Linked DNA regions of Homo sapiens: regions 2, 3 and 4 are each linked to region 1. The links come from fine-mapping of genetic effects on gene expression. A gene starts in region 1. Each other region holds a variant in brackets. All regions are shown on one strand. Distances are between the middles of the regions. Region 1 holds the start of FAM168A (family with sequence similarity 168 member A). Region 2 overlaps FAM168A (family with sequence similarity 168 member A). Region 3 overlaps FAM168A (family with sequence similarity 168 member A). Region 4 overlaps RELT (RELT TNF receptor).

What was found. PIP is the estimated chance that this variant, and not a neighbour inherited with it, causes the effect. A credible set is the group of variants that fine-mapping cannot tell apart.
Region 2: its variant is the best candidate, but not a certain one, in a credible set for the expression of FAM168A in whole blood (INTERVAL, PIP 0.87).
Region 3: its variant is the best candidate, but not a certain one, in a credible set for the expression of FAM168A in whole blood (TOPMed, PIP 0.82).
Region 4: its variant is the best candidate, but not a certain one, in a credible set for the expression of FAM168A in whole blood (GTEx, PIP 0.64).

What each region holds. Positions count from the first base shown.
Region 1 is chr11:73,594,692-73,600,803 of GRCh38, forward strand. FAM168A (family with sequence similarity 168 member A) reads right to left here and starts at 3,421. Exons shown (of 8, transcript NM_015159.3): 1 at 3,232-3,421. RefSeq lists an enhancer at 2,755-3,483 and silencers at 3,375-3,504, 3,635-3,864.
Region 2 is chr11:73,413,579-73,419,690 of GRCh38, forward strand. The region is part of intron 4 of FAM168A (family with sequence similarity 168 member A); the gene reads right to left. Among named protein-coding and RNA genes, the nearest start is that of RELT, 40 kb to the left of the region's middle. The variant T/G (reference allele first, on the strand shown) is at 2,545.
Region 3 is chr11:73,472,864-73,478,975 of GRCh38, forward strand. All of the region lies in intron 1 of FAM168A (family with sequence similarity 168 member A), which reads right to left. Among named protein-coding and RNA genes, the nearest start is that of RELT, 100 kb to the left of the region's middle. The variant G/A (reference allele first, on the strand shown) is at 3,375.
Region 4 is chr11:73,391,829-73,397,940 of GRCh38, forward strand. It overlaps RELT (RELT TNF receptor), which reads left to right. Exons shown (of 11, transcript NM_152222.2): 6 at 383-640; 7 at 2,009-2,089; 8 at 2,408-2,489; 9 at 2,649-2,906; 10 at 3,259-3,457; 11 at 3,616-5,646. The coding sequence ends at 3,663. Among named protein-coding and RNA genes, the nearest start is that of RELT, 18 kb to the left of the region's middle. The variant C/T (reference allele first, on the strand shown) is at 3,535.

The sequences.
Region 1 (6,112 bases):
CTAATTTTTGTATTTGTAGTAGAGATGGGGTTTTGCCATGTTGGCCAGGCTGATCTCAAACTCCTGACCTCAAGTGATCCACCCACCTCGGCCTCCCAAAGTGCTGGGACTACTGGCGTGAGCCACCACGCCTGGCCATCTGAAAGGTTTTTAATGACTTGACTGAAATCACTCAGCTTTCAAGTAGTAGAACTGGGATTTGAATCTGGGACTCAACTCCTAAACTCATGGGCTATTCGTTCCACAAAGGCTTCTGTCTATCAATACCTCCATCTGCTCTCTTCTCACCAAGATATCGGGAGGATCAAATGAGGTAAAGATACAAAAACACATTACTACTACACAGGTAACCACGGCTGTGGAAAAAAAAAATCCACCAACACATTTCTCCCAGGCACTTTTCATTTTGGGCTTTCAAAAGCTAGGGCTTTAATATAAACATCCCACCTCTAGACCAAGCCTGCAGATCTGCAAAAACAACGTCTAGACCTCAGAGTAAAGTTATGAGAGAAATGCTCACATTAGATTACAGTCTCACTGAATTACAGGTAACTGCTCAAACCTGATCTTTATTATAATACAGAAAGCTTCCTCATTACAAAACACTTTCAATTCAAAGGATAAGTCCAACGTTCCATCATTCTGCCCATTTTGGAGCTAAAAAAAAAAGATTCTAAATGGTATTTTTATATGCTCAATCGTGAAAGCCAAGGAAAATGGTTTGTTTGCGAGCTAAATTCTGAAGCTTGAACAAAAATAAAAAGAATTATTTCGATCCCAATGGTGCCAATTTTATCTTCTTTACATCCCTCCTCATTTTTTTTCAGTCTGAGCTCTAATCAACAGCCACTTTATGTTTAACATATTATCACAGTTAATGCAATTAGGTCCATAGAACTGTTTCTCTAAAGATGTTCCCTCCATTTGCACTCCTGTGTACCTTCCATTATCATCGTTCTGCCCTAAGAATGAGCATATCGCTAAGGTTTAAATCGAATTTCTGATGAATAGGTGGAGATGCTGTTTCTGTAGTTAATACAATGCGACTACATCAACATCATTCCCCAAAAAATAAAATAAAAATGACTCAATATGCTTTATTTATTCACATCTGACAGAATTCTGATCACCTGAATTCCTTTGGAAGAAAATTCAATCTTTAGAAATACAGTCCAATTATTCTAAATCTTATCAATGTCAAAAGACAATCATATGAAAAACTCCATCAGTACCAAACCATCTCACCAATGAATATTTATGACATTTCCATATTTCCTGTCTTCTCTGTTTACATAAAGCGGTGGTGCCAAGACTCATCTCAGGATTATTAGCCTGCAATACAATGATGGGCCTAATTGCCTTGCAAACCAGGACACTAACAAATGGCGTCTTCAAGCAATCAATTTAAAGAGGGGGTAAAAAAGGCCCAAGCTCTTTTTGCCTATGTGCTTGTTACCTACCTACAAAATAAATTCAGTCTCATATTTTTCAGGCTCACTCATTAGTTCTCAAGCAAGGAATGCACCCTTAACAATCTCAAGCTCATCAAATCTATTTAAATTTCAAAATGCCTGGCTAGTTTTTAAATACACCAGGAGGAGAGGGGAAAAGAAAAGGCAGAGACATCATATAGAAAGATATCCATTACATTCCAGTTTATCTTCTCCCACCTTTAGTTTGGAAGTATGCTTTTTTCCCCCAACTTACTTTTTATGATATACAAATAACAGAAGACACCCTCCCCTCCTTAATTCTACCTTAACTAAATCCCCTTTCAACTTTACCCTTTGGGCTGACTTGACTTCCAAATTTTACTAATATAAATAAAACAAACAAAAACATCACCCGAACAGATTAAAATGGCCCCTAAGAATGAGAAGGTCTCTTCCGTGTCCCCTGCAAAGTCCCCTCTAACAGCCTTACTGCCTCTCACCCAACCACAGCCACCAAGGCTGTTCATTTAAGTATTCCAACCCTTAACCCTCATGTGTCTCTTGGAGGCCACCCCAATCCTTCACCACCAAAATAATCCAACCCAATTCCCCCCTGCTCTCCAGCACAGCTCACTGTCCCTCTCCATCCTCTCTGCCCCATCCATACCAACAGCTCCAGGTCTCCCATTCCTTAAATTTCCCCTGTGCCACCTCACCATCAGCAACCACCTCCCCAGGCCTACCAGCTCATCTCCGAAAGTCCTTCTCCAAAACTCCCTCTGCCACCTTGGCCAAGGGATATTTTCTTCAAGATACCATCCCCCAACTTTGCTCACCCCTGCCGCTATCCTTTCAATGAAAGCAGCCCAGTGATGTTTTATGTGCCCTCTGCCTTGACTCTGCAACCAAGGAGCCACCATGCCCTTTCCAGTGATTGTAAGATCACCCTAAATCCAACCCACTGTGCCCCACACTCCATTTCCATCCCTGTCCTCCCATTTCGGGCCTGACTTCCAATGTGGCCCCTTCCTGCCAGCTCACCATCACACTCCCCTCACTGAATGTCCCACCTCCACCAACTCCTATTCCAACCTCCATCAGCCCACCCCAGGAAACCCCCAAATTGCACTCTTCTGCTCTATCCTAACCCATGCTATTCCATAAGTCTCCACAAATTCCACCAGCCCCAGATGACAAACACCCACTTCAAGCTTGGGTCTCAACCCATGCCAAGCCCCTCACCCCCAACTCCTGCCACCTCCATCATCCTGCCCCAGGTCCACCCCAAATTCCACCCTTCTGAATTAACACTACGCAGGGCCCTAACCAACCCTGTACATGCCACTCACTCTCCGTTGAAATCATTCCCCTGCCCCTCACCCCAGCTCAGATCCCAAGCTGTCAACTGCTCCAGGCCAAACCCAAATCACCACCCTCATTCAGTCCCCTCCCCCATTAAAAGCCATCCCACCCTAGTCTCATCTTCCACCTCGCCCCAAGACCATCCCGAATTCCAACCCGACGCCCCCACCCCACTCTCCTGTCCCAGGTTGGGTTATTCTCCATCAAAAGTCCTCCTCCCTTGTCGCCCGCCCCCCAACCTGCTTGGGTCCCACCCTCACCCCACCCCCGGCCAGCGCCTGGACAAGTCTCCCCCGCCAGCCCGCCGTTCCATCGCGACCTCAACCCCCTCCCCCCAACCTGCACGGGGGCTCCGCAGCCTCCCCTCTCATTCTCGCCAGCGCCACCGGCCCAGACTCAGGACCAGCGGACCCTGTGGCGGGGGGAGTCTCCTCACCGGTGAGCAGCTGCAGGCGAAAACGGCGGCGGCGGCGGCTGAGGCGGCGATGCCCTTGTCTTCTCCGGAGGCTACGGCGGCGACGCTCTCGCCCGTGTCCAGTAGGGTGGCGGATGGCGCGCGGGGACCGGAGCCTCCTCCTCAGCGACTCGGCTCTGAATCCTCTGCAGTAGCCGCCGAGGAGCCCGACGGGTGGGGGGAGGGGACGCTCGGCTGCGGGCGAGGGAGGAGGAGGCGGAGGGAGGAGGCGGGGGACCGCTCAGAAGGGCAGGGAAGGAGGAGCCGGCGCGGCGCCGCGACACGTCCCACAGCCTCAGAGCGCCGGGACCACAACTCCCGGCATGCCCTGCTTTAGCCCGCGCGCGGCCTGCGCCTCCCGCCGCGAGCCCGGTGCAGAGGGGCCGCGCCCTCTCCGGTCACGGACAGTGGAATAAAGCCAACCATCCGCTGGCGAATTTTGTAGACTCAAAGACCACCTGTGAGGAAAGTCAGGTCGCCCGAGGCCCCATCCCCAAGGGGCCGTACTCGCAGCGTCTCCATCCTCTTTGCATAGACACCCCCCTCCCCCCGCCCACACACACACACACACTCTCTGTCTCTCCCTCTCTCCCTCTCTCCCTCTCTCCCTCTCCCTCTCGTCTCTGTCTCTGGACTACACCTCCCAGCATGCCCCTCAGCTTCCTATTCTCCTTCCGGACCCTTCTCAGACCCGGTACTACAGTTCCCAGGGAGTGTGGTCCCTGCGAAATGCTGGGAGATGGAGTTCTCGGTTCTTCCTCCATGTTAAGAAAAAGAAGTGAAAGAGAGGCAAAAGGGAAGGAATACGCCAGCCCACCGAGGATGGGCCTTGATGGGCTAGATCACCTGTGATTCTGTTCATCCCTCGCCATCTCCGTTTCAGCTGTCTCTCACCAGAACTAATGCCGGAGCTTCCTCGCTGGTCTCCCTGCAAATTTGAGGACGATTCGGCAACTTGAATCCAAACGACAAAGGGCATATCCTCTTCTTGACCCAGCTCCATTACTTTTAAGAATTTACCTTAAAAAGATGATCGAACAATTTCGAAAAGATGAATGCACAAAGTTGTTATATGACGTAGTTAATTATGAAGGGAGTAAATGTTCATCGATAGGGTGCTGCTTAAATAAGACGTGACATATACATACAATGCAATACTAAGGAGCCATTTAAAATGATATAAATCTATTGACATGAAAAGCTATTCACAATTTATTCTTCGGGGAAAAAGTTGATTACACAACAGCATGTCTACACGAGTGCATTTATGTGAGGTTTGACACAATATTCTACAAGCATGGAGAGATTTCAGGAAAGAGGTTCGCCAAAATATTAGCAATGATTATCTTGGGGGAAAGGGTGTCAGATTGCACGTAGGTTTTTTTTGTTTTTTGAGACGGAGTCTGGATCTATAGCCAGGCTGGAGTAAAGTGGGGGCGATCGCAGGTCACTGCAACCTCTGCCTCCCGGGTTCAAGCGATTCTCCTGCCTCAGCCTCCTGAGTAGCTGGGACTACAGGCGCGCGCCACCACATCCAGCTAATTTTTGTATTTTTAGTAGAGATGGGGTTTCACTATATTGGCCAGGATGGTCTCGATTTCTTGACCTCCTGACCTGCCCGCCTCAGCCTCCCAAAGTGCTGGGATTACAGGCATGAGCCACAATGCCCGACTGTAATTTTTGTTTTCATATTGTTTGAATTGTTTAAAAGGAGCACATAACGACTGTTTTTTGTTTTCTTTTTTGTTTTGTTTTAATTGTAAGAGACGTCGTCTCACTATATTGCCCAGGCTGGTTTCAAACTCCTGGCCTCAAGAGACCCTCCTGCCTCAGCTCTCAAAAGTGCTGGGATTACAGGTGTGAGCCACACTACACCTGGACAATTTTTTAAGCTGTGCTACTTCCAAAAAACATAATTTCCAAATCTAACAACCTTTCTTTGCTGCCTAGATGCTTTCCATGGCTTCCCATTGTCTCATTCATGCTTCAGCACTGTGCCTGCCTGGTTTTAATAGTTCCACTATTAAAACAAATAATAGTAGTCACTTCCAATTCATAAAGTTGGAAGGGAGAATTTTCTCAATTTTCAATGCGTCTTCTCAAAATTTTTCCATTTCTGGTCTTTCCACACCCATTTTCTCCTTTTCTCTTACTCATTCTTCAAACTCAAGCCAAAGTCCTACCTTCCCTAGAACATATTTTAGACACACTGGTTTTCCTTATATCTGAATTCTTTTTTGTTTGTTTGTTTGTTTGTTTGTTTGTTTGAGACAGAGTCTTGCTCTGTCAGCCAGGCTGGAGTACAGTGGTGCAATCTCGGCTCACTGCAACCTCCGTCTCCCGGGCTCAAGCAATTCTCCTGCCTCATCCTTCCGAGTAGCTGGGATTACAGGCATGTGCCACCATGCCTGGCTAATTTTTTTTTGTATTTTTAGTAGAGATGGGGTTTCACCATGTTGGCCAGGCTGGTCTTGAACTCCTGACCTCAGGTAATCCGCCTGCCTCGGCCTCCCAAAGTGCTGGGATTACAGGCGTGAGCCACCGCTCCCGGCTTATCTGAATTCTTATAGCAGTGGTTTCTAATCTGTTGGCCAGAGATCACGGTGGGGAGAGGAAGTGAAGAGAGAGGTACAGAGTTATTGTAAAGGGCCTATGCAGCTCTGCCTACACAAAGCTATATGTCTTGCACTTTAAAAAAGTTTTTCTCTTCTTCTGACCCTTGTGTCCAGCTCTTCTAGAATACAGAATGTAGTATCAGATTATTTTTGATTTCACGATTTTTTTCATTTAAGCCCTGTTTGACTTGATATTTTCTTCTCTTTTTTCATTTTTTGAGACAGAGTCTCGCTCTGTCGCCCAGGCT
Region 2 (6,112 bases), 180 kb before region 1:
AATAAAGGGGTTTTATAGATAAACCAGAGATAGACATTTCCCAAATGTGGACAACGTACTATAGATCCCAAGGGATCTTAATAGTTGTTTTTGCCAAAGAAAAGGAAACAAAAGAGTTCTATAGTCCCATATGTAAAATAGAGATAAACAGTTAAGATTTTGTTTTTATTCCATGACCCTGAGAAGTTTTTAAAACAATAGGATGGGCTGGATGTGATGGCTCTCACCTATAATCCCAGCACTTTGGGAGGCCAAGGCAGGAGAAGCACTTGAGACCAGGAGTTTAACACCAGCCTGGGTAACACAGACAGACTACATCTCTAAAAAAAGAAAAAAACTTAGCCAGGCATGGTGGCTGGTGTAGTCCCCAGCTACTTGGGAGGCTGAGGCATGAGGATGGCTTGAGCCCAGGAGTCTAAGGCTGTTGTGAGCCATGATCACAACACTGTACTTCAGCCTGGGTGACAGAGCAGGACCCTGTCTCTTAAAGAAGGTGGGGAGGTGAACTGTGAATCTCTAAGATGGGAGTATGTACAAGACTGTATTTTCCAAATTAATTTTACCACAGAATCTTTTATTCATACTATAAACATTTAAAACAATTAAATTTCAGCCATGTTTTTTGTAATTGAAGCTAGTTTTGGTAAACAAAGTTATATTGTAACACATCCACATCCATTCATTTACATATTGACTAAGGCTACTTTCCTGCTACAATGGTAGTCACTGACAGAGAGCATATGGCCTTTTTAAAAGCCTAAATATTTGGCCCTTTACAGGAATGTTTGCTGACCCCTAATTTAAAGGAATATATCAAGGTGTAGAGAAACCTAGCAGAGCTGAAAGCATCCCTTTTCTATGCAGGAGAGTAGGACACCCCTGAATCAGAAGGTGCCTGTTTCTGAAAGCTCTGTAGCACAGAGCCATGGTTATGAGCAGTCTGGAGACAGACTGACTGCCTGGGTCCAAACCCCCAGCTCTGAGACTTAATAGCTATAGGATACATCAGTCTCGCGTGTGATATGGGAACAGTAATGGTACCTACTTCATTGTGATAAATACATTAACTGTTAAGTAAAAAGCACTTAGAACAGTACCTGACATATTAGAAGCACTTTATAAAGATCAGCTATTATTATTTTCTCTCTCACTTTATAGGGACAGTAAGCTTCTGTCCTAAGGGTATGCAGGCAGAGCCTGGTCTGAGAGACTAAAGCTAATCTATGACTACTATGGTCTGTCCCAGCTTGGAACACAGACTCCAGGATTCTAAGATTCTAAAATGTTATGGCTTAAAATGCCATGATTTTATGATTCTTTAAAGTTAACAGGCCAAAGATGCTGATGACTTTCCTTTATGCTCCTGGAGAATGTGCTCTGGAATTTTTCTCTTCCCTGGGGAAGCTGGATTACCCACTGTATGCCACAAGGACAGCCATATTACAAAGTGGTGAGACTATCCCTCTGAGGAAAATCAAAAAGCTCCAAGAGACTGCAGTAGAATTTGGTTCCCACATCTAAGAATAACCTTGTCTGAGAATGTTTCCCTTTCTTCATGTTATGAAATGAGACACACACATACTCAGAATACAAATCAGTAGCCAAAACACCCTTGGCAGCCAAAGAGATGATGCTGCAGAAGAAGGCCTTGCTTGTTTGTCCAGACAGTCTGAGATAGAAGCAGAACTGCAGAGCTAGAAGACTCAGAGATCATTAAGACCAACGTAAACATTTCACAGATGAGATAATGAGTAGTTGCTGAAAGAGAGAGCTGTTTGTGGGGATCTAAGACTCAGTGCTACTTCCTCTAACCACAGTGGTTCTCAAGGTTACCATTTGTCAGGAGGATCTTCATGAGGCTGGAGAAACTGCCTGGGGGCCCTCATCCTAGGTTCTGTCAGTAAGTCAGGTCAATTCCTCTCAGGGAATATCCTCATTTGGACTAGACAGTATCAGAGAACTTCTCTAGTGCTGACATTCTAGGTCTCTGAGTATTTCAGAAGACTTTCATGAGGAAATCATTTCAGAGGACTTTCCATAATTTACTAGTGGTCCTGTCAATACTCTTGAGGAACACTGAAAATTCCCCTGGAGCTATAGCCTGAGCTTGGGTGACACAAAAATCAGGGTTTATTACTTTATGCATCTAAGTAAAAGAAGCTGTTGGGCTTGTTGCAAAAAAGTCTCACAGATTTTGCCCAAATGAACTTAGACTCAGTTCACTCACTGGAGGCCTGGCTATCCTGAAAGGAATTCTAAGTCTGAAGGTCACAGAATTAAGACTTTGGAATGTTGTGCCTGAAGGACATTAGAGGTTTATATTCAACCTCCTCCTTTTCCGAGAAAGAACCTGGAGCCCAGAAGGACAGATTTTCCCCAAATTGTACAGCACATCAGTACACAGCTAGGCCCAAAGTTCAGGGCTCACCCTGCCCTAGGCAGAGCTCTTGCTGAGTTAAAGTCTCTGTAGTCCAATCTTGGGCATTTAATATACTGGCCTTTGTTGTCCCCATTTCACTAAAGGCAATATCATGAAAGAAAAAA[T/G]GAATTAGATCACTCGAAGTCCCAGCTCTGCCTTATAAAAGAGGCTTTGTTTATGATGTCCTATTCTTTCTCTTAGGTTCCTAACCATAATTTTAGAATCAAATGGGATAATAAAAAGAGTATGTACATTAACAAGATAAAACCTTTTCAGCGCTTTCTGCAATCCTTTTTCACTGTCATAAATCTTTTTCAGTTGTAGAAGCCCTACCACCTTCAAAGGCTTGATCCTTGCATCACGGATGCCTTTTAGACTAATTGGTTTATTGATCATCAGATTTATATGTCTGGACAAAATAAAGCTCTATGTCTGAATCTTGCTTTGACCCCTAAGACTCCTTGTTGGTAGCCAAGTGAGACAGTGATGAATCAGCAGGAGACCTAATTACAAACAGGCTTAGCAAGTATCAGTGAAATTGAACTGAATTTGTCAAAGTGCCCTGAATTTTCTGTGGTACTAGAAGCCACAAAATCTGAATGCTGGGAGGAATCTTTTTGAGTATGGGAGGGCCAGTCAACCCCAACTGCATTAAAAAATGGCACAGGTTTATACATTACTTGCTTGAAACAGAGGTAGGCCAGGCATGGTAGCTGGTGGGCAGACAGCTTGAGCCCAGGAGTTCGAGACCAGCCTAGGCAATGTGGGAAAACCCCATCTCTACAAAAAATTAAAAAAATTAGCTGGGCATGGTTTTGCATGCCTGTGGTCCCAGCTACATGGGAGGCTGCGGAGGGAGGATTGCTTGAGCCTAGGAGCTTGAGACTGCAGTGTGACGTGATTGTGCCACTGGACTCCAGCCTGAGTGACAGAGCAAGACCTTGTCTCAAAAAAAAGGTGGGGGTGGGTACATTTTGGTCTTTTTCAGGGACTGTGATAGCCTGTCTGGGAGGGAACAGTGGGATGTGGCTGCTGGACACTTAATGGGATTTCAGGAAGATTTCAACATAGTAGAAGGCAAGGCCTTCTGTTACTCAGACTTCCTGTGGAAAGGGTTGCCTCTGAAGGGAATGAGTACTCCATTTTTGGAGATGGTTTGTTGGCCAGCTAAGGGCAGCTAGAGAGGTGGTCCCTGTTGGGGTGGAAGACGCTGAGTACACATCATCTTGCTGAGAGATAAGGAGTCTAATTGCAAGAAAGAACCTTGGAGATGATTTAGTTCAGTTCCCTCATTTTGCAGTTTGAAAAATCAAGGTCCAATGCATGGACATCAATTATCCAAGGTTACACAGAACCCAGTCTAGAATTCAATGCAGCTTCCACTCCAGGCTGCTTTCTGCTACACTACAGTAGGTGTGCCTATATGCGTCTATATCCAGATGTTTAGATGTAAGAGAGAACATGTATATCCCTATTTTTATATATATATAATCTTACGTATGTTCATTCATTCTACCTGAGGTATCTGGAGAAACTCCTTATGGCTGACATACCTCTCTCTCTTTTTTTTTTTTTTTTTTGAGACGGAGTCTCACTCTGTTGCCCAGGCTGTAGTGCAATGGCGCAATCTCGGCTCACTGCCAGCTCCGTCTTCTGGGTTCACACCATTCTCCTGCCTCAGCCTCCCGAGTAGCTGGGACTACAGGCACCCGCCACCATGCCTGGCTAATTTTTTGTATTTTTAGTAGAGATGGGGTTTCACCATGTTGGCCAGGATGGTCTCGATCTTCTGACCTTGTGATCCGCCCACCTCGGCCTCCCAAAGTGCTGGGATTACAGGTGTGAGCCACCGCGCCTGGCCTGACATACCTCTCTTAAAGAGTAAAATCAATCTCATGAGAAAAGTCAGTAACTGAATCTTAACCTGGGTGATACCTTTTTCCGGCTGTGCTGCTTACTAGCTGGGTGGCGTTGGACCTATTACCTTTCTAGGCCTCATCGTTCAAACTGGGATGAAAATCCACCTAAATAACTTAGTAGACTGAGTGTAATGTAGATTAAATGAAAGGGTGATTATGAGACTATATTTTACAAAAGGTGAGTTACGTTGTATAAACATAAACTGATGTTGACATCTAGGGGCAATGAAAACTTGAGAAAATGACATTGGATGTTGATATGGTTTAGATGTTTGTTTCCTCCAAATGTCATGCTGAAATGTAACCTCCAGTGTTGGAAATGGGGCCTGCTGGGAGGTACTGGATCACAGAGGTAGATCCCTCATGATGGCTTAGCACCATCCCCTTGCTGATGAGTGAGCTCTGATTATTTAGAGTGTGGCACCTTCCCAGCCCCTTGCTCCCTCTCTCACCATGTGATATGCTGGCTTCCTCTTTTGCCTTCCGCCATGACTGTAAGCTTCCTGAGGCCCTCACCAGAAGCTAAGCAGGGGTTGGTACCATGCTTGTGCAGCCTGCAGAACCGTAAGCCAATTAAACCTCTTTTCTTTATGAATTACCCAGCCTCAGGTATTTCTTTATAACAACACAAGAACAGACTAACACAGATGTTTTAAAGAAAAGAAAAAAATACAATGAATTCTTCTAGTCTACTTACTTAGTAGATTAATAATTTGTGGAACCACACACTATCAGGCCTTGCCTGGAATATCCCTTTGAGGGCTTATCCAGCCCTCACAACTTAAGAGAGAAGTTCTCACCACATCCAAAGTCAGTCATTCCTCTATTGAACAGCTCCAACAAGACACAAAGTTCTTCCTTATATGGAGTCAAAATGCCACTCAGTAATTTCATTTTTTTTTTTTTTTTTGAGACGGAGTCTTGTTCTGTCGCCCAGGCTGGAGTGCAGTGGCGTGATCTTGGCTCACTGCAAGCTCCGCCTCCCGGGTTCATGCCATTCTCCTGCCTCAGCCTCCTGAGTAGCTGGGACTACAGGCGCCCACCACCATGCCCGGCTAATTTTTTTTGTATTTTTAGTGGAGACAGGGTTTCACCGTGTTAGCCAGGATGGTCTCAATCTCCTGACCTCGTGATCCGCCCACCTTGGCCTCCCAAAGTGCTGGGATTACAGGCATGAGCCACCGCGCCCGGCTGCCACTCAGTAATTTCTAAACATTGGTCCTCATTTCCCCAGTGGAACCACTTTGTGTTAAAAATTAGATGTGACGGTGACAACATCAGTTACCCTACTGAGCCTCAGGATGAATATGACCAGTCTGACTGGCTAGCTGGTTTCTGGCCTCCCTGAAGACTCCTCATACACACCTTGGTCCCACAGTGCAGCTTGCACTAGGGCAGTGTTTCTCATACAGAGGGCAATTTTGCCCCATAAGGGACACTTAGCAATGTTTAGAAACATTTTTGGTTGTCACAATGAGGCTTTCCTACTGGCATGTAGGGTAGAGGCCAGGGATGCTGTTAAACATCCTATAATGCACAGGACAGCGCCCCCACAACAAAGAATTATTTGGCCTAGATGTCAATAGTGCTGAGATTAAGAAGCCCTGTGCTAGAGGGGGGAGCCCTCTCTGTCCAAAGACCCACAGACCTTCAAAATGTGCCCTCTGTCCTTTCCCCCTAAAATGCAGTAACAGTCCTTCCCCAATCAACTTGTTGGCCAGGTGAGTATTTCCTTCTCCTTCCCTCAGTGCTTTGTGTTTCCCCAAAGCTGAGT
Region 3 (6,112 bases), 120 kb before region 1:
TTTTGGGTGAAGAACAGAAATCTGGATTTGGACTTAGATTGGAGATGCCTAAGAATTTTGCTCAGAACAATGTTTGATATACAATCAACACCCCATAGAAGGTTAGCCATTAGGACTACCACAAACATTACCTCTTTGGTGGTTCTGTGGAGGTTAAAAAAAAAGGAAAAAAAATAATAAATACTACCCCTACTACCAGCAGCTACCATTTACTGAACACCTACCATGTGACAGGTACTGTGCTAAGGACTTACTAAGTCCCTGTCAGTCTTATAATACTTGCAAACTAAGTATTATTTTTATTATATTACAGATAAGTAAACTTAAGTCCAAAAAAATGAAGTGACTAGCCCAAGATCTCATAACTAAGAAGTAAGGAAAAGCCAATTTCAAAGCCAGGTCTGTTTGATTTCAATGTCCAAGTTACTTTCACTGTACTAGATGAGGCTTCCAGGCTCTCTAGTCAGCTACCCCAGTACTAGGTTCGCCTCTGGAACAGTAGGCCTCAAACCCTTGTTCAACTCAAGAGCCTAAGTGCTCTGCTTGGACCCTAACAGATCACAACAGGGAGGCAGTTCATATCTACCACAGTACCTGGCACCTGCTGGGTCACTGCTGGGCACCATGGGCAGTTATAACTATATGATATGGCCTGATGTGCCTACCTCTCTGGTTGCAACTTCTACCACTATCTTTTTGTTTTCTTCACTTCAATCACAATGACTTCCTTGTTGTTCCCTGAAGACACCATGCATGCTTGTGCCTCTGGGTCTTTGCACTTGCTTTTTCCCCACACCTAGAATGCCCTTTTCCCCAGATATCCAAATGGCACAGCTCCTCACTTAATTCAGGTCTCTGTTCAAATGTCACCTTATCAGAAATGCCTTCCTTAACCAACTTATCTAAAATAGGTCCTCCACATGCTGTTATTCTCTGTTCTCTCATCCTTTCTTACTTTTTTTTTTTTTGAGATGGAGTCTCGCTCTGTTGCCCAGGCTGGAGTGCAGTGGCGCAATCTCGGCTCACTGCAACCTCTGCCTCCCAGGTTCAAGCAATCTGCCTCAGCTTCCCAAGTAGCTGGGATTACTGGCACCCACCACCACACCCAACTAATTTTTGTATTTTTAGTAGAGATGGGGTTTCACCATGTTGGCCAGGCTGGTCTCAAACTCCTGACCTCAAGTGATCCACCCACCTCGACCTCCCAAAGTGCTGAGATTACAGACATGGACCACCGTGCCCGGCTTACTCTTCTTATTGATATCTATTTTAGTCTGTTTTGTGATGCTATAACAGAATAGCTGAGACTAGGTAATTAATAATGAACAGAAATTTATTTCTCACAGTTCTGGAGCATGGGAAGTCCAAGATCAAGGGGACGGCATCTGGCAAGGGCCTTCTTGCTATATCATCCCATGGAAGGGCAAGAGAGAGAATCTATTCCTGAAAGCCTTTTAAAAAAATGATTTTTTTTTTTTAAAGATATGGGGTCTTACTGTGTTGTTCAGGCTGGACTGCAATGTCTATTCACAGGCACAGTTACGGCACACTACAGCTTCAAACTGCTGGGCTCAAGTGATCCTCCTGCCCTAGTCTCCCAAGTAGCTCCCTGAAAGCTGGCTCCTCAAAAGCCTGTTAAACAGACATTAAGCCCACCCCTGAGGACAGGGCCCCCAGAACCTAATTGCCTCTTAAAGGTCCCACCTCCCAATACTATTACATGGGCAATTAATTTTCAACATAAGTTTTATAGAGGACAAACATCCAAACCACTGTAACACCTATTACTGTCTGACATATTTTCTTGTTTATTCTTTCCCCCATTAGAGTAAGGTCCATGAGAATGAGATTCTGTTTATCTTGTATCCCCAGTGCACAGAATATTACCTGGCACAAAACAGGCACCAAATACATATTAGTTGAACAAACAATGAGCCATCTTTCATGCTTCTCCAAAATAAAACTGTGAAAAAAGCTTCAAGATGTTTGGCATTTCTTGGCATATCCCAGTCAACTTCTTGGCTCCCTATCTCTCCAGCAGCTACTTCCAATGCCCAGAGAAGCCTCTACTAGGAGCTCATCTTGGGCAAAATAGGCAATGGTAAGGCCCAGCAGTTGCATGACATGTGAGAGAGAAAAGAGAGGTGCTAAAGATTCCTCCTGGTGAAGCTGATTTTTCACTTCTAGATTCCTACCCACTGTTCTACAAATGGCTTCCTGCTACCCTCAAAACATCTCAACTATTTCTTTCAAAATAACGAAATATATGACCATTAAATGACAAGCAAAAAAGCCCAGAGATTAAAGTAATATTTACACAACAGGTTGCAGTGTTTAAACTTAGTGTTTTAGTTTGCAAACTACTACACTTTGCAAACTAAAATGGTAAAATTCTTTGAAAAATTTACCATTTGAAAAATGGTAAAAATGGTAAATTTTTCAAATAATTTTACCACTTACACAGTGCTTTAGACTTTACAATGAGATTTTAACCATTATCTCACTTGGTCCTTTGAAGTAAGCAATGCAAAGATTATTAATTTCATTTGACAGACCAAGAAACTAAAGCTTAAAGGTTTAATGCCTTCTGGGATAGATACTGTTGGGAAAGGAAAAAGATTGTGTTTGCCCAAAAGAGGATATGGTCTACCTAGGAAAGTTTAAAAGTTAAATAAAAATTAAAATGCCAAAAGTAATAGAAGGAGGTGGAACTTCTGGAACAAAGTGCTTACCAAACCCTTTCCCCCAAAAGCAAAAATAAAATGAGATGAAATGTTAAAAAAAAAACCATTTTGGGCCAAAGTATGAAATGTCTATTCAAGAAAAACTTCTGAACCACATTAAGAACAGTGAAAATCCATGGCATTTTACCCTGGGGCTGCCCTTATCCCAATCCCAAGCTCTGTAGGGGGCCTGCTACTAGGGCAGGCTAGACCAGGCTAAAAGGACTACTGCAACCAGAGTGGGCTGATTTAATTTGAAACTGAGCATAGAAAATCCAATGCCCAGAGTCATTGTCAAAAACAATAGTGAGGCAATTTGGGGAACAACAGCAAATAATCCAGGAAGGCCACTAATGCAGCTACTCTGAGGTCATACTAGTTGGTGCAGGCAACAGACCTGCAGATAAGCCAGAAATTTTAAAGGGAGGTCTGGGGAACACAACAACCATAGTGGGTCTTGATAAACTTTCATAGGATCCCTAGTGGTCTGTAAAGAAGGTCTTCTGTATCTGCTGATCCTGGGTGAATTTAAGGCCTTGGACATAACAAAACTAAAAGTTAGAGCATAACTGTAAATTGCCTGAATTTTGAATGCATTCCCCAAACCACATACAGATCCACTGGTAAAGGGTGGAAGCCTTCCTGGCCTGC[G/A]TTTAATCAGAACTCCTGATCAAACATTGGATGGCCACTAATCTATGCCAACCCAGGGGTGACCTTTAGGAAGCCAAGTTTAAAAATTAAAATAGTAATTAAAAAAATATGGCCAGAGACATCAGAAATCACACTGCAAAGGAGACAGACTCTACAGAAGAGTCTAAGCAAGTCACTAAACAAAAAATCCCAGCAACAACAACCTCCTGATGGTGGGGTGGGGGTGGGGTGGGTGGGTGGAATCCGAATCAAGAATTGCTACAATATATTATCTAAAATATGTAGTTTTCAGCAATACTGACAAAATCATGAAACACGCAAAGAAACAATAAAGTATGTCCCATTTGTGGGGGAAAAACAGGTAACAATAAATTTTGTTCTTGCAGGAGTCTAGATATTGGAATCAGCAGATAAATATTTCAAAGCAGCTATTACAAATGTTAAAAAAAAACTAAAGAAAACCACACTTAAAGAATTAAAGTATGATAATAACTTATCAAATAGAGAATATCAATAAAAAATATAAAAATTGAAAGAGTCAAATGGAAATCGTATTCTGAAATGAATCATTCAAGAGAGGCTCAGAAGCAAACGTGAGCTGGCAGAAGAAAGAATCACTGAACTTGAAGACAGAGCAATAGAAGTTATACAATCTGAAAAACAAAAAGAAAACAATGAAGAAAAATAAACTGTGAGAAACTAGCAAGCAAACCAAAATACAAGCATGAGAGTCCCAGAAAGAGGAGAGAAAGAAAATTAGGTGGGAAAAATGGGAATACTATGCCATTAAAAAAATAAAACAAAAAACAAAATCATGTTCTCTGCAGCAACATGGATGCAGCTGGAGGTCATTATCCTAAGCAAATTAACCCAGGAACACAAAACTAAATACCACAGATTCTCACTTATAAGTGGGAGATAAACATTGAGTACACATAGACACAATGATGAGAACAATAGACACTAGGACTTACTTGGGCAGGGAGGGTTGAAGGAGGGTGAAAGTCAAAAAAAAGTCAGGTACTATGCTCGCTACCTGGGTGATGAAATCATTTGTACACCAAATCCCAGTGACACGCAATTTACCCACGTAACAAATCTGCATATGTTACCCCTAAACCTAAAATAAAAGTCAAGGGGGAAGAAAAAGAAATTATACCACAAATTGAAAAAAAAAGAAGATATAATGTCCAAAAACTTCCCAAATTTGATTAAGACAACAACAACAACACATATTAAACTACACATCCAAGAAATACAATCAACTTCAAGTTGGATAAACACAAAAAGATCCATAACCGGACACAATATAGTAAAACTTCTAAAAGTCAAAGAGAAAATTTCAAAAGTGGCAAGAGAAAACAACTTATCTGATAAAAGGGAATAACAATAAGATTAACAGCTGACCGGAGGCCAGAAGACAGGAGGTTGGTATATTCAATGTGCTGAAAAAACAAACAAAAAACCTGTCAACCAAGAATTCTAAATCCAGCAAAACTATCCTTTGAAACTGAAGTCAAAATAAACACATTCCCAGATAAATAATTGAGACAATTCATTGCTAGCAACCTGCCTTTCAAAAAATACTAAAGAAATACTAAATATTTATGACTGAAAGGAAGTGATACTAGACAGTAATTCAAGTCCACACACAAAAATAAAGAGCACCAGGAAAGCTGATATGTAGATAGATAGATAGATAGATAGATAGATAGATAGATAGATAGATAGATAAAACAAGGTATAAATATTTTTCGTGTTAACTGGCTTAAAAGACAATTGCATAAAACAACTATAAAACTGAATTGTTGGCCTTATGATATATAAAGATACCATTTACATAAAAACAAGAGTCCAAAGTAAGGAAGTATGGGAATGCTGCCATATTGGAGCAACATTTCTACATTTTACTGAATTACATTAGTTTGCATCTGAACTAGACTGAAATAAATGCAATAAGTTATAATAAATTAAGATGCATATTTAATCCCCAAAGCAACCAGTGAGAAAATAAATTTTAAAATGTTAAATATCGACAATATCAATAAAAAGGAACAAACTACTGATACATGTCACAACATGAATTAACCTTGAAAATATTATGCTAAGTGGAAGAAGCCAGGGCAAAAGAACACATATTGCATGATTCCATTTATATGAAATGTTCAGAAAAGACAAATCTGTACAGGCAAACAGTAGATTTTTGATCATCTGGGACTCAGAGCAGGAATGGCGATTGACTGCAGATAGAAGCAAGAGATTTCTTTGGTGTGGAAAAAAAGTCTAAAATGATTTTTGGTGGTTACAAAATTCTGTAAATTCACAAAAAAACACTGTACACTTAAAATGAGTACATTTATCATATCTAAATTATACCTCAATAAAGCTACTAAAAATACAAATTGTTGATTCAATAGTTACAAATTTTTAATAAGCTAAAAGAGATTAAGTCATTTACTTCAGCACACTCATTTTATATAAACTGATACTTGCTGTGCCAGGCCATGCATAAAGTGTTACAGATTCAGGGGTAACAAGGCACAATTTCTGTCCCTGGGGTATTTATATGAGGGAAACAGCCTTGGAATTAACAGCAATATAGTACTGTTGTTATACTGAAAGCTAGAATTTAAAGAAAAAAACAACTAAAGTGGGGTGATGGGGGAGCAGGTGGGCAGTGCTGTGACTGCCACTAGATGGCAACATGCTCAGTTAAAGGATTCTATTTCCCAACTTTC
Region 4 (6,112 bases), 200 kb before region 1:
GCACCTCCTCCCGCCACTGAGTCAGTCACCCCCTGAGGCACTAGATTCATGGCCAGGCCACAGGGAGGCAGATCCCACGTCCCTGTGCCCAGACATGTGTCCTGTGTGCCATCTCTTCACCCCCTGACCCCAGCGTGAGGGGAGGGTGGGGCTGGGTGTCTGGCCGTCCTGAGGAGGCCTTGTTCAGGACAATGCTTCGATGGCCAGAAGGGAAAACAGGAGGGCAGTGGGTTGACCTTTGCATCCCCAGCATGGCGGGGAGTGGGCTCCCCTGGGCACATTGGCTCTCCTGCAGCCCCCACTGACTCGGGCCCTGGGCCCCTGTCTCTCTGTGTTTGTGTCACTCTGCTTTTGTCCTGCCTCCATCGTCTGTGATGCTCAGAGTGGGGGCGGCGGGCCCGACGTGGCGTGGAGGTGGCAGCAGGGGCCAGCAGCGGTGGTGAGACACGGCAGCCTGGGAACGGCACCCGGGCAGGTGGCCCAGAGGAGACAGCCGCCCAGTACGCGGTCATCGCCATCGTCCCTGTCTTCTGCCTCATGGGGCTGTTGGGCATCCTGGTGTGCAACCTCCTCAAGCGGAAGGGCTACCACTGCACGGCGCACAAGGAGGTCGGGCCCGGCCCTGGAGGTGGAGGCAGTGGTGAGGCCCAGCTGGGGTCCAGGTGGGAAGGACGGGGGCACGAGCCCAGCCCCAGCTCCACTTGGGGGCTGCCAGCGGAATCCTGCCTGGCCTCTGGGGTCTGAGAGGGAGAGGCTTGGGAGGTGATAGCTGCAGACTGACAACATGGGAGGAAAGGTAAGGGGACGAAGGTGTGGCCGTGGGGGCAGAGCAGAGGTGGCACAGCTGGTCAAGTGGCTTCAGTGGATCCTACCCTGGGTGAAGCCTTGCCCAGATGTGGGGATCTGGACTCTTTGGAGGCCACAGTTGTGTGTATGGTTCCAGGGTCGGATGGTGGCCTTGGAGTTACTCAAGGTGACCTCTGACCTCTGGCCTGGAGTAGCAGGAGTGCCCTGTGGCAGGAGGGCTGGCAGGGCAGCTGTCCTGTCCTGGGCAGGCACCATAAGGGGCTCGGGTTTTGGTTCCAGGCTGTAGTTTGAGTTACAAGGCCTGGAACCGGAGGGACAGGCATGCGCCACCACCTTCACCCCCAGGGCCCCGGGCCCCTTTCCTTCTTCCCCACACCACTACTCCCCTGCAGGGCAGGGGCCCACTCGCACACACCCTGCCCTGGGCCCATGGGAGCCTGTGGCTACCTCAAGAGTGAAATGGCATCTCCCATGCTAGCACCCTCGGCTGTCTGGGGCTGGCATGGGAGCCAGAGACCCTTCTAAGTCCTGACACTGAAGTCTGGCGGGGGCAGGAAGCGGACAGGAGCAGTAAGCCGGCAGGAGGAAACGTGGTGACTCAGGGCCATTTTGCCTGGGACTGTGCTTGTTTTCCTAGAGACTTCCCTTTAACTGCTGGATGCTGCCTGGGTGCAAGTCCTGGGAGCTCTGTTTGCTGCTGGGCCCAGGGCTGATCATCGTGGCCCATTCTCACACCCTTGAGATTTGGGCCCAAAGCTGACTAGGGGCACTCAGTTAAATTGTTACATAGGGCACAGTAGAGAGGCCATGGAATAGCAGTTTGCTGTAGATTTGGGGAGTTCTGGGTAGGGTGGCAGCCCACAGCTCCTTGAGGCTGAGGAGGAGACAGTGCAGACCCAGAAGACGCTGACGCACCGCCCCCTCGCCCGCCCAATTCAATGACTGGAGTTCACGTGGCCCTGAAGCCTCTATGCACCCGGGCTGTTGGGTGCAGGAAGCACTGGTGTTGAATCATGAAGGTGATATGGGCTTCTCTGAGCCTGGATCCCACATTTGCAGGGCTCTGGGAGGCTTGTCACCTAAATGCACATGCTCAGGGCCCTTAAGAAGGCCAGGGTTGCCCTCTGCTGGCAGATCATGGTTTAGCTCAGGAGTGCGGCTTCCCCCTCTTCCCCAGGATCAGGGCCCTTCTCTTCCCCAGGAATCAACCCTGCCTACCGGACTGAGGATGCCAATGAGGACACCATTGGGGTCCTGGTGCGCTTGATCACAGAGAAGAAAGGTGAGGAGAAGGTCTGACCCCATCCCAGTGCCCAGGAGAGGAGGGTTTCCTCCAGGAGCCTGTGAGGCAGCCGCGGTGGGCAGAGTCTTGCCCTGCTCTGCCTTCCCTGCCAGGGTGCCTCAAGCAGCCTGGTGCTCTCTGACCCAGGAGTGCACACCTCTGCCTCCCATTCTTGCCTGATGAAGTGGGAGGAAAAGGCGCACAGCCCAGGCTGGGAGTGGTGGTATGGAGGGTAGGTGGGGGGTTCTCTGCTGGGGCAGGGGGTGGGAGGTGTGTCCCATATGGCCACAGTGAGGGTCTGACTGCAGCTACCCACAGAGAATGCTGCGGCCCTGGAGGAGCTGCTGAAAGAGTACCACAGCAAACAGCTGGTGCAGACGAGCCACAGGCCTGTGTCCAAGTGAGTGGGCTGGTGGGAGATAACGGGGCCAAAACCTACATTAACCAGCCTGCCTCCTGGGGATCTCCCACTTGGGTCTCCCTCAAGTCACCCTGTTCCCTGCTGGGGTCTCCTGCCCCTGGCCTGGCCTATGGCCACTTCTGCCTGTGCCCCCTGCAGGCTGCCGCCAGCGCCCCCGAACGTGCCACACATCTGCCCGCACCGCCACCATCTCCACACCGTGCAGGGCCTGGCCTCGCTCTCTGGCCCCTGCTGCTCCCGCTGTAGCCAGAAGAAGTGGCCCGAGGTGCTGCTGTCCCCTGAGGCTGTAGCCGCCACTACTCCTGTTCCCAGCCTTCTGCCTAACCCGACCAGGGTTCCCAAGGCCGGGGCCAAGGCAGGGCGTCAGGGCGAGATCACCATCTTGTCTGTGGGCAGGTGAGATGGGCACAGATGCAGCAGGGGCAGGTAAAGACGTGACAGCCTGGGGGCCGGGAGGGGGAGGCAGGGCCCCAGCTTGGGCCCTGAGCACCCTGCTCAATGGGAGCCCTGCCCTTATTGGGCCTCTCTGGGCAGTGGAGGCGGCCAGAGAGATCAGGACTTTCCGGTTATGTTGTGTCTCACATGGAGCCCTTGCATCCCTAGGGCAGCATCTTGGCCCCCATGGCACCCGGGCCTCTCAGGCTAAGGCTCTGGTCCATGAACTTGCTGTGTGACCCCGGGCACGTGCTGCCTTCTCTGTGCCCCGGGATCCCCGCTAACGGGGATGATTGCCCCACTCTCCTCACAGGTTCCGCGTGGCTCGAATTCCTGAGCAGCGGACAAGTTCAATGGTGTCTGAGGTGAAGACCATCACGGAGGCTGGGCCCTCGTGGGGTGATCTCCCTGACTCCCCACAGCCTGGCCTCCCCCCTGAGCAGCAGGCCCTGCTAGGAAGTGGCGGAAGCCGTACAAAGTGGCTGAAGCCCCCAGCAGAGAACAAGGCCGAGGTGAGAGTCAAGGAGAAAGGCATCTGTTGGCACCTGGGCCAACCCTGACCGAAGACGGGGCAGGGGTGGAAGTGCAG[C/T]GGGCCCTAGGCAGGGGCCACTTTCCTGGAGCCAGAAGCCAGCCCCTGACTCAGCTCTGACCCCTCACCCCTGCCCACCAGGAGAACCGCTATGTGGTCCGGCTAAGTGAGAGCAACCTGGTCATCTGAGGGGCGGTCTAGTCTAAGGACACTGCGGCCCTGCCCTGGGAGGTTCCGAAGGCTTCCTGGAGGAGGTGGAGCTGCAGCTGGGACTGTGAGGACCGAGAAGCAATGGCCCAGCAGACGAGACAGCAAAGACCAAGGCCTGGAGGTGGGAGCGTCTGCCCCAGTGAGGAGGCAGGTGGCCGGCGGGCACTGTGTACAGGAGCAGGCTGAGCCCCGCCCCTGGCCCTGCTGCCATGTTGCTCCCCTGAAGGATGCCCCGACCCCCGTGCCTGCCCTGGCTGGATCCTAGGAGCCCACGGGATTCTCTGTATCATCAGAGGCTGGGCTTGGCAGAGGGGAGGGGCCTGTGCCCGTCACCCCTGGCCCCATTCCTTGGTAATTAGCCACACCCTTGCCTCTGTACAGGGCCCTAGAGCAGATGTGCGTCCCCCTCCTCTTCCAGCAGGTCTATAAAGGGAAGGGGTAGCAGAAAGTCCTGGGCTAGGAGAGTGAGTCCCTGGGTTCTAATCTTGGGCACATCTGTGGCCATCGCTGGGTCCATTTTTCTGACTGTGAAGTAAGGAGAGACGTCTCAGTACCCAGGGCCTCTTCAGCTCTTTGTAGGTTCTGGGCTGGGTTGTGGGGGACTGGGGAGCTGGGCTCTACCATCCCTCCCATTAGTAGCTTTATCCAGCCCCGTTTTTGCTGCTTCCAGGGCCTCTGCCTTCAAGGCCCCCATGGGGCTGTCCATCCATGGCTCTGCCTACGGAAGGGGCTTAATGCATGTGCCTGCCCCTCCCCCAGCTGTTTTTAATGAAACTGAAAAAATAGACTTGATCCCGGCAGGACTGTGATACAGAGCCCTAGCCTGCCCAGCCAGCCCCAAGATCTCAGGAGCTTTAGGGAGAAGACTTGGTGGGGCTGGAGCACACCTTGGGCCTCAGTGGTTTCTGTGTCCCTGTGGTGCCAGTGCTTCTGGGCAGTGCAGGCGGCTGCCAGGCCCAGCCCTGACTTCCACTCTGGCTCAGCAACCTGGTTATTTATGTGGGGCCGTGCAGGCATGGGCCCACTGCCTGTCCATCCTGTTTCTCTTATTTATTGAAACTCACCATTGCCCTATCCTTGTGTCTCCACCCCCTTCCATGTGTTGAATAATAAAAGGTGGGAAAGTGCTGTCACGAGGAGCTCCTTTTCTCTGTGCCCTTCCCAGCTTATCCGCCTGTTCCACTTGTACCTGTCCAGCCCTGCCCTGTGTTGGGCACCGTGACAGGCTGCCCTCCCCTCACAGTTCCTGCACCTCAGCAGCCAGGGAAGCAGGGCCCAGAGGAGACCCATCAACTCATCTGGTTCTCACCAAAGCCCCTAGCTAGAGGCAGGGCTGTCCCACAGAAATAGTGTGAGCCACATATGTGACTTTAAATTTTCTGACAGTCACATTTCAAAAAGTAAAAAGAAGCAGGTGAACTTAATTTTTTTTTAACCCAGTCTATCCAAAATATTTTCATTTCAATATAAAATCAGTATAAAAAGTGTGAATGAGCTGTTTTTGCTTTTGCTTTGAAATCTGGAGTGTATCTTACACATCTTGATTGGAACTCAAATATTTCAAGGGCTCCATAGCCACGTGGCCAGCAGCTACCACACTGGTCAGCGCAGCACCTGAGGAAATGCACTGTGTGGAGCCCGGGAGGTAATTGGGGGTGAGGAAGATGTGCGGGCCAGGGAATGTGTTCCACAGAGAGGGACAGCATGTGCAAAGGCTGAGCACCAACACATAGTGGTCACCTGGGCCTTATGCCCAGGGAGCCTCCAAAGCATTCAGCTCCTGCTTGGCCAGTGTGGAGAGGAAAGGAGCCACAGGAGCGGGTGCTACACCCGGCAAGACAGAGCGTCTCCATCTAAAATTCCTAGGGCAAGCTTCCAACCCGGCCCAAGGGCCGCATGTGGCCCAGGATATGGCTTTGAATGGGGCCTAACACAAATTCATAAACTTTCTTAAAACATTGAGATGTTTTTGCTTTTTTCTTTTCTTTTTAGTTCTTCAGCTATTGTTAGTGTTAATATGCGGCCCAAGAAAATTCTTCCAATGTGGCCCAGAGAAACCAAAAGATTGGACACCCCTGTGCTAGGGTTTGGTAATGGGAAATGGGTCGGGGGCTTAGGGCCAGCTGGGTGGGGCAACAGGAGCAGTCCTGGGGGCACCTGTGACACAGCCATGGAGGATGTCCCATGCCATCCAGATGTGAAGGCCCAGAGCTCTCAGGAGACAGACCTGGAGACAAGAAGACCTACAGGCACTCAGGTGGGTGTTTAGGCCAGGACTGGGCTGGGAGGAAATGTCCTGGGGACGATGCCTGGGCTGCTCCAGGGCACCACAGAGAAGGCACTGCTAGGGAGGCAGGAAAGAAACCAGGGAGGGCAACGTCCGTGGCAGTGTCCTGGCAGCCAGGGGAGGGGTGGGCGCAGGGTGGGC